2 linked regions of the Homo sapiens genome follow. The protein of the gene in region 1 interacts with the protein of each later gene in a biochemical or structural test. Each region holds a gene or a part of one and is shown on either strand. Other genes may lie near its edges.

Region 1 (7,025 bases):
GCTCATCATATCACCCCCAGGAATGTAGTCCATTACAAAGTATAAATTGTCCTTATCTTGGAATGAATAATATAGACGAACTACCCATTCATTGTCAGCTTCAGCCAGGATATCTCTCTCAGCCTTAACATGAGCGACTTGATTTCGAAGAAGAACATCTTTCTTTCGAAGAGTTTTTGTTGCATACAAAGCCTTAGTATCTACTTTTCTTGCTAGACAGACTTCACCAAATGCTCCTATTCCTAGTGTCTTTATCTTCACAAACATAGACTTGTCCATTTTAGCCCTTTTAAGACGGATGTAATTAGATTCTTTTTGGCAAAGCATCTTTCTCATTTGATCCTGGGCATCTTGAGATAATCCAACCTAGGCAAATAAACTAGATGTTAAATAAGAATTATCTTCTTCAATATTGAATATTAAGAAATAGCTTGGGAAAAATTCAGGCATATATTTAAAGGTTAAATGCATAATTTTTAATAAAGCATGTTAGAAATCTAGAAAACATTTCAAAGGAAATTAATGATCAAAAGTGCAGCCTAAGGGGTAGTTAAAAGGATATTCAAAGTGAGTACCTATGCAAATTCAGCTGTGGAGTGCAAGAAGAGGGTACCAGATGAGTAAGCTTTCTACTCTTCTCTAATGCACTCCGAAAAAAAAAAAAAAAAAGGTTCTCAATGTGCAACAAACATCTGTTAACATGTTAACATGCATATTCATTTATCTCTCTGTATATGCTTCTCTTGGTGGAATGCCTAGGCCTCAAATATTCTTCCTATTTTGTCTTTCATGAAAAAAAATTCTTCCACTCCAGGCTCATTTATTCTAAAAAATTAATGTACCAAAGAACAACAAAACAATGCCTTTTCTAACCCACCAATCCTTTCCCTATTCTCAATAAATATACAACAGTCATTAATAATCTTTCCTTTTCTATTTTTCAGGGCATCAGAGTAAAGGTGCGACTCACAGTCTACCACTAACACAAATTGCAAAGGGTTTCTCCTACTTCGAAAAGAACAACCTGGTTGTTTACAAGATATCCTTTGGATACTTAGGAATACTTCAGTGTGACTCATGAAAATATCAAAAAATAGATTAAAAACAAAAACTAACTTCTAAGTATTATAGATATGGAATGCCTGGATTTAGAAGGGAGAAACATTTTGGCTAATTAATAAAGAATTAATTAAAGGGTTTAAATAGAAAAGAAATCCAGTTGGAAAAGTGGGGTCTAATTCTAGAAATACAAGACTAAAATAGAACAACCACATGCTTCTGTTAGGATTCACATTTGCATGCAAAATCTTTTAAGAAGGATGGCATGCCAGACTTAGTTCAGAACTGTTTCTCTTAAAATCTTACTTGCCTACACAGTAATGGAGACTACAGAAGTCAGCAAAGCTTCCAACACCATAAAAGTTTAAATCAGCTATTAGTGAAAGTGAAGAGGAAAAAGGAAAAATAAACTAAGAAAATACACATAGGCAGACTTTAGTAAGAAATCCTAAGAATTAAAATATGGATAAGTCATAGAAATTATTATGGTATTTCTCATTTAATAAAATATAAAATAGAAATAACAATACTGTAAAATCAGATTTATTAAAATCATTTTAAAAGAATGGTTCAAGTATATAAAGGTGTTTAATCACAAGGTTAAGCCTCTTGGATTGTGAGTGACAGATGTAAGATTAGGAGTCAAATCTTTGAACTCTAAGCATATGATAAAAACAATAATGGCCAGGCACAGTGGCTCATGCCTGTAATCCCAGTGCTTTGGGAGGCAGACGCGGGTGGGTCATGGCGTCAAGAGATCAAGACCGGCCTGGCCAACATGGTGAAACCCCGCCTCTACTAAAAATAAAAAATTAGCTCAGCGTGCTGACGGGCGCTTGTAGTCCCAGCTAGTGGGGAGGCTGAGGCAGGAGAACTGCTTGAACCCGGGAGGCGGAGGTTGCAGTGAGCTGAGATGGCGCCACTGCACTCCAGCCTGGCGACAGAGTGAGATGTCGTCTCAAAAAAAAAAAAAAATGATGATCGTACTACCTTAATATCTAGAGATCTATGTGGAATGACAACACAGATTAAAGTGTGTTTACTTACTCTGATCTCCCTTTTAGTATAGTTTCACTAAATAATTTTAGCACATTTTTCTCCAGTATATTATAAAAATGAAATGAGAAGGGAGATATAACTGAAGGAAACTTCTTTACACTTTTTAATAAGATATATGTGATGAATAAACCTATAAACTCCAAATTTTCTAAAAGTAAATGTTTTATAAGTATATCAAGAGATGAGACCCACGTATTTCTTTTTTCTTTTTTTTTTTTTTTTGAGACGGAGTCTCACTGTCGCCCACACTGGAGTGCAGTGGCGCGATCTCGGCTCACTGCAACCTCCGCCTCCGGGGTTCACGCCATTCTCCTGCCTCAGCCTTCCAAGTAGCTGGGACTACAGGCGCCCGCCACCATGCCCAGCTAATTTTTTTTGGTATTTTTAGTAGAGACGGGGTTTCACTGTGTTAGGCAGGATGGTCTCGATCTCCTGACCTCATGATCTGCCTGCCTCAGCCTTCCAAAGTGCTTTGATTACAGGCGTGAGCCCCCATGCCCCAGCCTGAGACCCACATATTTCTAGTTTATTTTTAAATGTTGTAAGATATTGTATGAAGCCTAGAAGACAACCCTTCCTCCAATTTTCATATAAAGGTATTATGTACACCTAAACTGTATACCGCAAATTATATTTTTCTTAATTTACACGAGATTTTATTATAGGAAATTCTGAATAAATATTGAAATACTAAAATAAAATGCTACAATCAAAAGTACTTTAATATTTATTCACTTTTAAATTCCATAACTGATAATATATTTTATTTAGCTATAAAAAGAAAGAAAAATACTGGACACAATATTTTAAAATAAACACCAAGCAAACAGATGATTAAGTATAAAAATGGACATTTTAAAAGGTTTTACCCGCATCATTTCATTCTCTAATTGTTTTTTACGATGTAGACGCTGCTGATGAGATTTGAGTACATTTTCTACATGTTGCTCCATAAAGAATTTAAATGCTTGAGGAGAATAACTTTGAATACGAGATTCCCTTCGCTCTTCATCTTTCTTGTTTTTCCTAACAGTAATAGGTGAAGTTGTAATCTGTTTCTTTTCTTTATCCCCACTATCAACATTTTCATAACTCTTTTCACTCTCATCTTCCTTGGGCAAGCTTGGCTGATCCTCTTTGCTAGGCTTACTGATTGACTCGTATGGAGGAACAGATGGGTTTTGGTGCAGCAGATGTTTTGGGTAGGGTGGTGGTGGTCCTTGATAGTTTGGAGCTTCAGCAACAGGTGGCATCACAGTCACATTTGAAGCGGTTCCCTCAGGAAAAGGACTGGGTTGAACAGTTTGAATTGGCTGTGGTATCCAAGAAGGGTGTGTAGGTGCTAAAGCAGTCTGTAGCTCTGGTTTTAATACACGCATACTTTTCACAGGCTGTTGAATAGGAGCTGGTGTAATTGCAGTGACTGTTGTAGCAGAAGGCTGAGAATTAGCAGAGTGACTTGCTCTATTTCCTAATGGGTTATTAAAAGAATTTGACCTCACTGGTATGTTAGGTTGCCATGTAGGGATTTCATGCCCACTGCTCGGGGATGACTGGGCTGGAGCAGAAGATGACTGAGGCCAATTTGTTTGCAGTCCAGGTACACTAATGTTATATAGTTCCATGTTATGACTATTTCTGTTTGGCACCATCATAGACTGAGGAATACTTCCATTTGTATATGACGAAGGAGCAGCAGATCCCCCTGTTTGTAAAGCAGAAGGGCTTTGTCCATTAGCTGCTGTCAGAGGATATGGAGGTGGTGGCTGCCGATTCACAGTGCCAGCAGGGACAACATTTTGGTGTATCATGAAATCAGTTTGTCCAGTACCATTCTGCATTCCAGGTCTCCCTGATGGAAAGTTAAATTTGCTAGAACTCTGCATGATGATTGGTTGTCTGCCAACAGGAACAGAACTAATGCCTCTCTGTCCTTGATTAGGAGGATTCATGGGGGAAGTGTTGAGAGGTGGTGGAGGATAGCCCTCTTGCCATGCCCCAGGTGGGACAGGAGAGATTCGGGAGATTACGTATTCCATGTTTCCAGAATAGCGCTTTGTTTGAGAGTTTGGTTCCCATGAAGGGGGAGGTGGAGTTGTACCTCTTGGAGGGGGAGTCTGGCCTCTTGGAGGTGGTGGAGGAGTAACACTCCTTACTTGAGGTGGTGGTGGGGGGTTCACTCTCTGTCCGTTGCTAGGGTGAGCTTGAACAAATGCTGATATACCAGATCCAGACAAAGGTCTTCCTACATCTGTCTGTGAGTTGGGACTCTCAGAATGATAGGCCACACTTTCTCCTAGTGGCGGGCCATGCCTCTGAGGAACTAAGGATTCTTTAGAACCTTTCCAGCTCTGTTTGCGGTTAACTGATTGCTGCACATTCCCTATGGTTATAAGAGAGATAAAGAGAAAAAAGAATCATGTTTTTAACCTCTAATTTTTGAAAACCTTAGCTTGCAATTCTGATATTACAAATGATACTCAATTCTCTTTCAAGAATTATAAAAATATAAAAAAGTTCAAGTGATCTCTTGTACAAAATGGTGACTGTAGTTAATAACAACGTATTGTACTCCTGAAAATTGCCGAGAGTAAATTTGAAGTATTCTCACTACAAAAAAATGATATGTGAGGTAATAATACATGTTATTTGGCTCAATTTAGCAAAAAAAGAAAAAAAAGAGTTATAAAAATAAAATTTCACTAAGTGGTTTCCTTTTACCTTTTAGAATTTTATTTATTTTTGACCAGGCGTGGTGGCTCACGCCTGTAATCCCAGCACTTTGGGAGGCTGAGGTAGGCAGATCACTTGAGGCCAGGAGTTCGAGACCAGCCTGGCCAACATGGTGAAACTCCATTTCTACTAAAAATACAAAAAAATTAGCCAGGCGTGGTGGTGTGCACCTGTAGTCCCAGCCACTCGGGAGGCTGAGGCAGGAGAATTGCATGAACCAAGAAGGCCAACGCTGCAGTGAACTGAGATCGTGCCACTGCACTCCAGCCTGGGTGACAGTGCAAGACTCCATCTCAAAAAAAATATATATATATTTTTGAAGAGATATAATTTCATATATATGCATGTATATTTGTAGATAAATTATTAGAGGTAGCATTATTAGGCCAAAGGGCGTATCTATTTGTAATTTTCATAGCTCTACTGATTTTAAATATATTTTAATATATATCTATATTTTTAAATTGAGACAAAGTCTCACTCTGTCACCCAGGCTGGAGTGCAGTGGCACAGACTCACTGCAACCTCCGTCTCCCGGGTTCAAGTAATTCTCCTTCCTCAGCCTCCTGAGTAGCTGGGACTACAGGCGCACGCCACCACGCCCAGCTAACTTTTGTATTTTTAGTAGAGACGGGGTTTCGCCATGTTAGCGAGGCTGGTCTTAAACTCCCGACCTCAAGTGATCTGCCCTCCTAAGCCTTCCAAAGTGCTGGGATTACAGGTGTGAGCCACTGCACCTGGCCTTTTAATATGGTTTTTAAAACAGAAAAAGATAGTAGGCTATAATTAGCTGAATATTAAATAAAGTATAGATTTTACAGAAACTGTCTTTAACGGAATTTCCAAATCAATAAAACAAGCAAAAAAAAAAATACAATACCAAAAAAAGAGAAGTATTTAAAATAGAATAGTCCAGCCACTTAGGAAAAATATACAAGATACACTGGTATAAAGACAATACATATATACATTCTAGAAAGACTAAAGGTTTAAATATTAAAGATGAAATCATGTAAGCACTAGAAAAAAACAAAAGACCATTCAATAGTATTGGGGTACCTCTTGCGAATGTCTTCCCAGGCATGACAAAAGTAGAGATCTAAATACAAACACTCATTACCATTAAAAACAAAACAAAAAAGAATACTAATAAATTTGAAAGGTCAACATCATCCTGGGCAAAAATATATCTAACAATACATCTGAGAAAAAAAGTGGTAAAATGTGGTAAATGTTCATAATGTTCAGTTTAACACTCCCTTTCATCTAGGCTGGACAGCATTTTGGGTCTACATTCTCGAAGCAGGAGCCAGACGAAAAGCAAGTGAGTAAATAATGTTTGGGGAACATTATCATTCCGGATAAACTGGACAAGTCCTCTGGCCATCAGGCTCTTTCTCACTTTCCTCAGAGGCCAGCTGAGGCCAAATACACCATGTCACTCATTCAGCTTTTAGAGTATACAGTCACCCCTGTTGTTCTGCGCCTCCCACAGAGCTCTCCATGTTCTTCCACTTCCCGAACCTTTCCACCATGCCCTCCGGATCCACTCGGCTCCACAGCCAGCAAATGTGCCTTATCAGTAACCTCTCCTCCAAGCTTTCCTGCCACCTCCTTGAAGCTGGTTTTCTTCTGCTGATACTACTTTCCTTTCAGCCCTTTGAAATTAAGGTTTCCTTTAAAAATAACCTGGCCTAAAGATGGGGTTCTAACATTTGTTCTTACAGGTTGATATTATTCCTTTTAAAAAGCCAGCTCTTTTGAACTTCATGCTATGTGGGAGGCCACACTAATTCCTCTCACCTAATGAGCTCCTGCCTATTTGCTCTATTTCATTCAGCCACAGCTTCAGCATTCAGTCTACCCTAAGCCCTGCCTTCATCCTGTAACCTCAATAACCACGAGGATAAACCATCTATTGCCCTCATATCTCAGCTTCTTGACGTCCCCTCTTCCACTCCACATCAAGTATCATTCTCATGATTGTATTTCAAACTTTGGTATTACTCATATCTGCTCTTGTTTCAGAATAACTACTTTAAGGTTTATACGCTTATACTCCCAGACCACAACTACTTCTTCTGTTTACTCCTACTGCAAAAGTTTTTAAACTTTATTAAGTAGCAACCTCACCAAGATCTCCAAGATTTTTATTTTTTTTTTTTTGAGACAGA
Region 2 (6,919 bases), on another chromosome or scaffold:
GGACAGCTCTGATGTGCCAAGCGCCCCTTCATATTGTCCTGGGTGTCTGCCCACTGCTCTCCAGGACCCTGGAACAAGCTCAGTCCCTCTTCCACACAAACACCTGCTGGGTGTTTGAAGGCAGTACCCCTGAAACAGACTGACCACAGCCTTCTACTGTTTACAAGTGCTATCACATTTGATTCTCTCAGCTCTTCTGTGGGGCAGATGTTGTTGTTGTTGTCTTTACTTTAGAGAAGGTGAAATAGGCTCAGAGAACAAGTGCCTTGTCCATGGTCACACAGAATTTTAGTGCATGTCCTTGTCAACCTTGTCTTCCCCTGCCATCTTCCCTTGAACCTTGTCTTCTTCAAGTGAAAGGAAGTTTAACCTCAATTCCTCTGACTGCCGTAAGGGTGCCCATGGCATTCTCCTCAATGGGCCAGGATGGAAAATCCAGGACGGATGATCCTGCCTCCTGGGCAGGGAGGGGCAGAAGCTGAAATGGAAACTCTTTCTTGGGAGAGAGTGAGTAGAGGGTGGGCCCTATCAGGCTATAGTAGCTGCCAGACATCTGGTAAGGTGAACTGAGGGTGCAGTATCTTATTCTGGGGGGCAGGGTGGGAGTGGGGGAGCTTTCTTGGCATAGGAAGGGCTGGGGAGTCCCCAGGAAGTGGCCACTCTGTATCAGTAGAGTCACTGGATACAGGCCTACAGCGGGAAGGCACAGGAAGCTGGTTCTGATAAGGTACTTGGAGTGGTACTTCGTATGGCTAGAAGATGCTTTCATGGTAGAGGTGTAGAAACTAAGGCCCAGAGAGGGGCAAGGGCTTTCCCAAAGGCACACAGCAGGTAGACACCACCCTGCTGCCACTCAGAGTTCCCACTGCGAGGGGGGCATGTGCCCAGGCTGAGTAGTGGAAAAGGGCACGTCCTCTCCTAGGTCCTCACTGGCTCACGCCAAGCTTCAGAGATGAGCCTTGTTTGAAGTCTTCTGGAGCCATTTATCATACTCAAGACACAGTGGCAGGGAACAGAGCCCATCTTGTGTAGGTCTCCAGTGCTGGAGGGTTACAGTGTCTCATCAGAGAGGGCAGAACCATCCCAAGGCCACACAGCTAAATTACGGTAAAGCCAGGACACTGTTCTCCAAGGTCTGGGTCTTTTCAGCCCCAGCAGAGCCTCCTAGAAGAACTAGTCTCTCTAACCAAGACTGAGAAGGGCAGGAAGAGGGTACAGGTAGTTGAGAGATCTGGGCTCTCTCGCTTCCCCCAACCCTTCCACCTGCCTCCCATCCCACAGACACCCAGGGACTCTGAGGATGAGCTGGGAATTTCTGATGTTCCTTCAAAATGGATCATCTCTATTTCCCACAGTGTAAGGTTCTGTGCTGTTCACTCTTCACCAGAAAAACTCCTGCCTATCCTGTAAAACCCAGCTCAGAGGTCCAGAAAATGACCCTGCACAAAGCCTCTGCAGAGGAAGTCACATCAAATTCTGAAGAATCTTCCAGACCATGATCTCTGACCACAATGCAATATAATTAGAACTCAACAAGAAAAACATAAACCTCCCATAGGCTGAGAAACTGAAAAACATACTTTGAAATCATTCAAGAGTTAAAGAGGAAATTACACTGAAATTTATGAACTATTTAGAACTGAATGATAAGGAAAACACAAGCAGTTTCCAAATCATTTCCCCTATGAAGTCAGCCCTGACCCCACATGGCTCCTCAGATGGCTCTCCACCCTCTACCCATTTCTACGCCCTAGGAGGCTGACGTCTATGGGCTGCAGCAACAGGTTCCCTTGTTCTTAGCTTCTGGGAGGATTCAGCTAGTGGGGGAAACCTGGCCAGAGATCAGACGGAGGGAGAGAGGGAGGAGAGTGAGGCCTCTTACTTGCCCCCTGTCCTTCCCTGTATGATTGCTGTGAGCTGGGTATGCCCCTCCACCTTAGGCCACAGCAGCGCCCTCCTCATAGCTCCCACTTTCACCATTCCTTCCCCACACTCCTGCAGCCTGGGGTTGACAGCCTCTGCTCTTGTGAGCCCTTTGGTGATACACTGTGTGGTTTCCCTACACCTTGACCATACCTGTAAATAATGTCTTCATTAAACATACCCATTCTGGGTGTTCCATGTGCTTCCTGCAAATACCCCGACTCTTACAAAGTCCGTCAGTCCACAACCACATTCTCACTTCTGGGTGACTGAGCTGTGACCTTGTGTATCTCTGTGTGTTGTCCCCTTTACTGACCTGTCAGCACCTGAGGTCGGCAACCAGGTCAGCTTTATCACCCAGTCCCCTGATCTGATATGAGTGGAGAGTTATACTCAATAAAAGATATTGATTAGGATATCAAATAAATAAAGAAGCATAGTTTAATTTGCTCCATAAGCAAGTGTTTGTTTATAGGGGATTCAGGGCAGAGAGTTAAGAGTCAGACATAAAAATACAGAGAACTTTAGACTGGGGCAAAAATTGGTGCTCAACAAAAGAACATACCCACAGTTCTATGAGCTGGGATTCTTTCTTTACTTTTATTTTAGGTTCAAGGGTACATGTGTAGGTTTGTTATATAAGTAAACTCTGTGTCATGGGGATTTGGTGTACAGATAATTTCATCACCGAGGTAAGCAGCATAGTACCTGATGGGTATTTTTGTCTCATCCTCCCTCCTCCCGCCCTCCACTCCCAAGCAGGCCCCAGTGTCTGCTGTTCCCCTCCTAGTATCTATGTATTCTCATTGTTTAGCTCCTACTTGTAAGTGAGAATATGCAGTATTTGGTTTTCTATTCCTGTGTTAGTCTGCTTAGGATAATGGCCTCCAGCTCCAGCCCATGTTGCTGCAAAGGATATGATCTGGGTTAAGGATCTAGCGTGTTCTCATGTCATCCAGCAACAGAAGGTCCAGACACAAGGGAGGTCCAGTGTGCCATGGTAAATGCCCACCTCTGGCCTCCAGCTCTCCCCTACCCGCATCTACTCACCTCCCACCCCTCCAGAGTGGCTTCTATGGCTAAGCTCTCTGCTTTGGGCTTCCTACCCTAGAAAGCCTCCAATCTTCCCTCCCATCCCAGACAGAGCAGCCAACTGGTCCCTGGGCCTGGGGGCCACGGTGTGCATTGAATGCTGGTGGGATATCTGTCTGTCCTCGAAGGAACCCAGGTGGTAGGGAGAGCAGATCAGATCTTGAGTGGTTTGGATTTGTCAGAAGGAAGGAGGGAGAGAAGGTATTCTAAAATGGAACAGCTGGGATAAGGGTCTGGAGATAAGAAATGGGGTGACTCTGGGTAAGGAGCAAGGAGAATCAGCCCAACCTGAGCCAGGCCCCCTCCCTGGTGAGGAGATGAAGTTTGTGATTTGAGCGCTCTTCTGGGGCTTGTCCCTCAGGGGTGAAGGACTCAGCTCATGATTCCCAAGGCGTTCATTTATTCCTTCACTCACCCATTCATTCATTCATCAAGTGGGTTTTGAGTTCCTGCTATGTGCCAGGAGCTGAGGATATGGGAGTGGATAGGACGGTCCCGATCCCTTATTGGGTCCCGGGACAAGTGTGACGCAGACGATTCTAGGAGGGCAAAGAAACCACCCTTATCTAGCAGCTCTTGTTTCTGCTCCAGAAGAAGCCGAGCGTTTTCCCATTTTACTGTCTGGGAACTTGAGGCTGCCTCCTTGGTGGAGGTCCAAGGAAGCACCGAGAGGGCGGGCAGCTCAGTTAGTCCTTTGTCCAAGGGGAAGCTGGGAGCCCCATATGGACTTTCCGGGAAGGTGGGGGCGAGTGCGTCTGTGTACTGGAGTGGAGGGGAGTCCCCTTTCTCCGCCCCTCCCCGCCCCGTGGCCGCGGCGTGGCGGGGCCGGGGCGGAGCTGGCGTCGCCCGGGGCAGGAGGGCAGCCGCGGCCGGCAGGACAGGCAGACGGACAGGCTGACAGGAGAGAGAACAGGCACTGCGGGACCTGCAGGAGAAAGGCGATCCTGTGGCTGGGAATGTGACCCCACGGCCAGAAGAGGACCCGTGAGTGTGCGCCGTGCCCCTGCGGCCTCGCCGCGCACCCCGCCCGCCTGGCTTCCACTTTCATTTCTTCGGCCGTCCTGGCGTGGCACAGTCCGGAGGAGAGTCCCGCCCGAAGGCAGGCTGGCCGCTGTCCTGAGGCTGGCGTCCGAGGCTCAGAGCTTCGAAAGTTGCGGGGGGGATTGTCGGGGTGGGGGAGTACGGGGCAGAGGGGAGGGGTTGGGGGGCGTGTTTTCGGGGAGCGGAAATGTCAGGCGGGCTCCTCTGGGTCCTACGACCTTCCTGGCCCTGGGAGCTGGTTTGAGGTTGCAGGGAAGCCGGGGGTGGGCGTGGGTGGCTGCGCGCCGCGAGGAGAGCGTGGAGTCTTCGCCTCTACTTTTTCTCTTCGACCTCTGTCCTAGAGAGAGTCCCAGGATGGATTCTGGGTTCAAACTGGGGCCATCCTCTGGCCCAGATCCTGGGCCAGGCCCAAGGAGTGGTAGATGTAGCCTAGCAGGGGGCTAAATATCAGAAACAGGTAGGGTCAGCCTGCTGTCTTCATTTGAGAAGCCCAGATCCGCACCCAGGGAACGAGCAAGGCACTGCCACTCCAGGAGTGAAAGGATAGCCATCACTGGGAAATGGGGGCTAGGACGGGGAACGGCAGTGGTTCAGGGAGAGACAGAGGTTCTGTGACAGATAGAAACTCAGTGAGGGCATGGGGGTGGGGAGTGAAGGGAGTTAACCCTGTGGCTAGAAGAGCACCTGCCCTGCACCCACCCCCTGAGCTTACATTTTCCTGGAAAGAGACCCAGGCCTTGAAGTTCCACAGGAGTAAGGTGGAACTCTAGCTCACTGGTCAGGACACCCCAGTTGCTGTGCGGAGTCAGTGTGTTGGGGACAGGAAGCAGGTTGGGCTGTTTGGTGGAGAAGATGCTTCCACTGTCCCTCCACTCCCCTCCTCTTCTCTGTCTCCACCAGACCATTGATGAGCCAGTGCAGGAAAATGGTCTTTTACTCTTGGTCATGAGCTGAGCCCCACCTTATCCCAGTTCCCAGTTCTGCTTGTAACTTGCTATGTGGACACAGGCTCCTCAAGTCCTCTTTTTAGGCCTCAGTTTCCTCATCTGGGCCTCAGTTTCCCCATCTGTACAAGTGAGTTGGGCCAGCTGATCTATCAGGGCTATTTTAACTCTAAGATTCTAGTCTAAGCTTTCCTTAAAGCCTGAACACTGACTTTGTGCCAGGCCTTGTCCTAAGCTGGGGGTGGGTTGGGGATGGAGTGGAGACTGCAATGACCAAAAGCAGCCTCTACCCAAGGAGAAGGAGATCTGAGTTCAGGAGAGGAGGCTGTGGGAGGAGGTAGCAGCCAATCTGAGGATGTGTGGTCAGGCAGGTGGAGGGATAAGAAAACATGCAGAGGCAAAAGAGTGGGGGCGTGTTCAGGAATCAGGAAGAAGCCCAGGGTGGTTGGTGTGGGGAGGTGGGAAGTGGGGCAGGAAAGGTAGGACAAGGTGCTGAATGCCAGGGTGGGGGCCTATTTCTAACTGTCATAAAGGGGGCCATGCAATGTGGGGAGCCCAGGAGCCCCGCCTAATTGCAGTGTGAGGGATTTTGGAAGCACTTGCCCCAAGCAGAGTTTAAAATGGAGATGGCAAATGAAGCGCAGAAATCTCTTTGCTCTGGAAACTGGGGTCCCACCCTGGGGACTTCTTTGGGTGAGAAGTCGAAGAGTCGGGATGGATGAGATGACCTTTCACATCTGTGAGTTTTTTTCAAGAGAACAAGTTCCTGCTGAATGGCCTGTTTCTACTCTCCAAGCTGCTCTCATTTTACCAGACTGCCCCCATCCTGGCCTGCCTTTGTGGGTTCAAGGAAGGACCTTTGTCTCAAACAGCTCCCCAGCTAGTTTGACTTCTTGCCAGAAGTAATACCCCTCCCCGAAATATGTGCCATCCCTTTGCTTTTACCCAGGTGTCACCTGGTTCCCACCCTCCCTTCCCCAATCCTGTCCCAGGGTTACCAGAGATGTGAGAAAGGACAGTGCTCCAGCGTCAGAGGTCAAGCCCAGGCTTTGGCCATAAGCAAGCCTCAGGGTAGGGCTAAAGGCTAGAGTCAGGGCTCACACTTGCCAGAGCCCAGGTCAGAGGTCAGCCAGGAACCAGAATGCAATTCTTAGCTTATACTCAGCCTTAGTGCTCAGTCTAGGGGCAGGGGCAGTGTGCTTAGTGGGTGGCTAAATTCTAGTTTTGGTAGGTACATGGGTCTGCATTTCCCAGTAGCTCACACACTCACAGTTGAGATGAGATGACTCAGGTCTTAGAAACCTAGCTATAGCAGAGTGACCCAGGACCTGGATGGGCTAAATCCATGGTGATACAGGGGTCACCCAGTAAGCCAGTGGTAGAGCTGGGACTAGAACCCAGGACTCCTGCCTCTGAGCCTAGGGCCCTGATCACTGTCTCCCAAAATTTGTTCTGAATCTGGGATCCTTAAATTCTAGGAGGCAAAGTAAATTTGCCTGAGCTCTAGATGGGCCCTCCTGGGTGCATCTGACTATACTCTTCTACCTCCCAGTGCCAGGCACATAGTAGTTGCTAGAGGAATGTCTACTGAGTGTCAGGTGCAACGGGAGGAGCCAGTGGCTTGTTCAGATTTGGGGCTGGAGGAGGCTGGCTTGAGGGGAAGGATCTCCAGCTGTTGTCAGAGGAAGCGACGCCCTCATTGGCCTGCCGCCCTCCCCCTCCTCCAGTGCTTGCAGCCACACTCAGAAGCCGCCCAGCTGGCAGCGGGAGGGCCCTTTCCTCTTTCAGGGTGAAAAAAAAGGAAAGGACATTTTTGGTAGAAAAGTTCCCTGCTGCTCCCTGGGAATCCCCGGTGGCCGGATGGACTACGGGATATCCCAGAGGAAGCCGAAAGCCACCCCCGACCCCCCTCCACCCTG

Evidence for each region. The genes of interacting proteins can lie anywhere in the genome.
Region 2: the proteins of LATS1 (region 1) and MOB3C form a complex in vitro, tested with the Homo sapiens proteins (one study listed by BioGRID).

The regions. Positions count from the first base shown.
Region 1 is NC_000006.12:149,680,092-149,687,116, forward strand, and holds part of LATS1 (serine/threonine-protein kinase LATS1), read right to left. Parts: intron 4,502-7,025; coding exon 2,988-4,501; coding exon of another isoform or gene 2,925-2,987; exon of another isoform or gene 2,823-2,924; intron 1,433-2,822; exon of another isoform or gene 1,370-1,432; intron 367-1,369; coding exon 1-366. UniProt on the Homo sapiens protein: Negative regulator of YAP1 in the Hippo signaling pathway that plays a pivotal role in organ size control and tumor suppression by restricting proliferation and promoting apoptosis.
Region 2 is NC_000001.11:46,613,791-46,620,709, reverse strand, and holds the start of MOB3C (MOB kinase activator 3C), read left to right. Parts: upstream 1-3,898; 5' UTR 3,899-3,999; intron 4,000-5,576; exon of another isoform or gene 5,577-5,739; intron 5,740-6,919. UniProt on the Homo sapiens protein: May regulate the activity of kinases.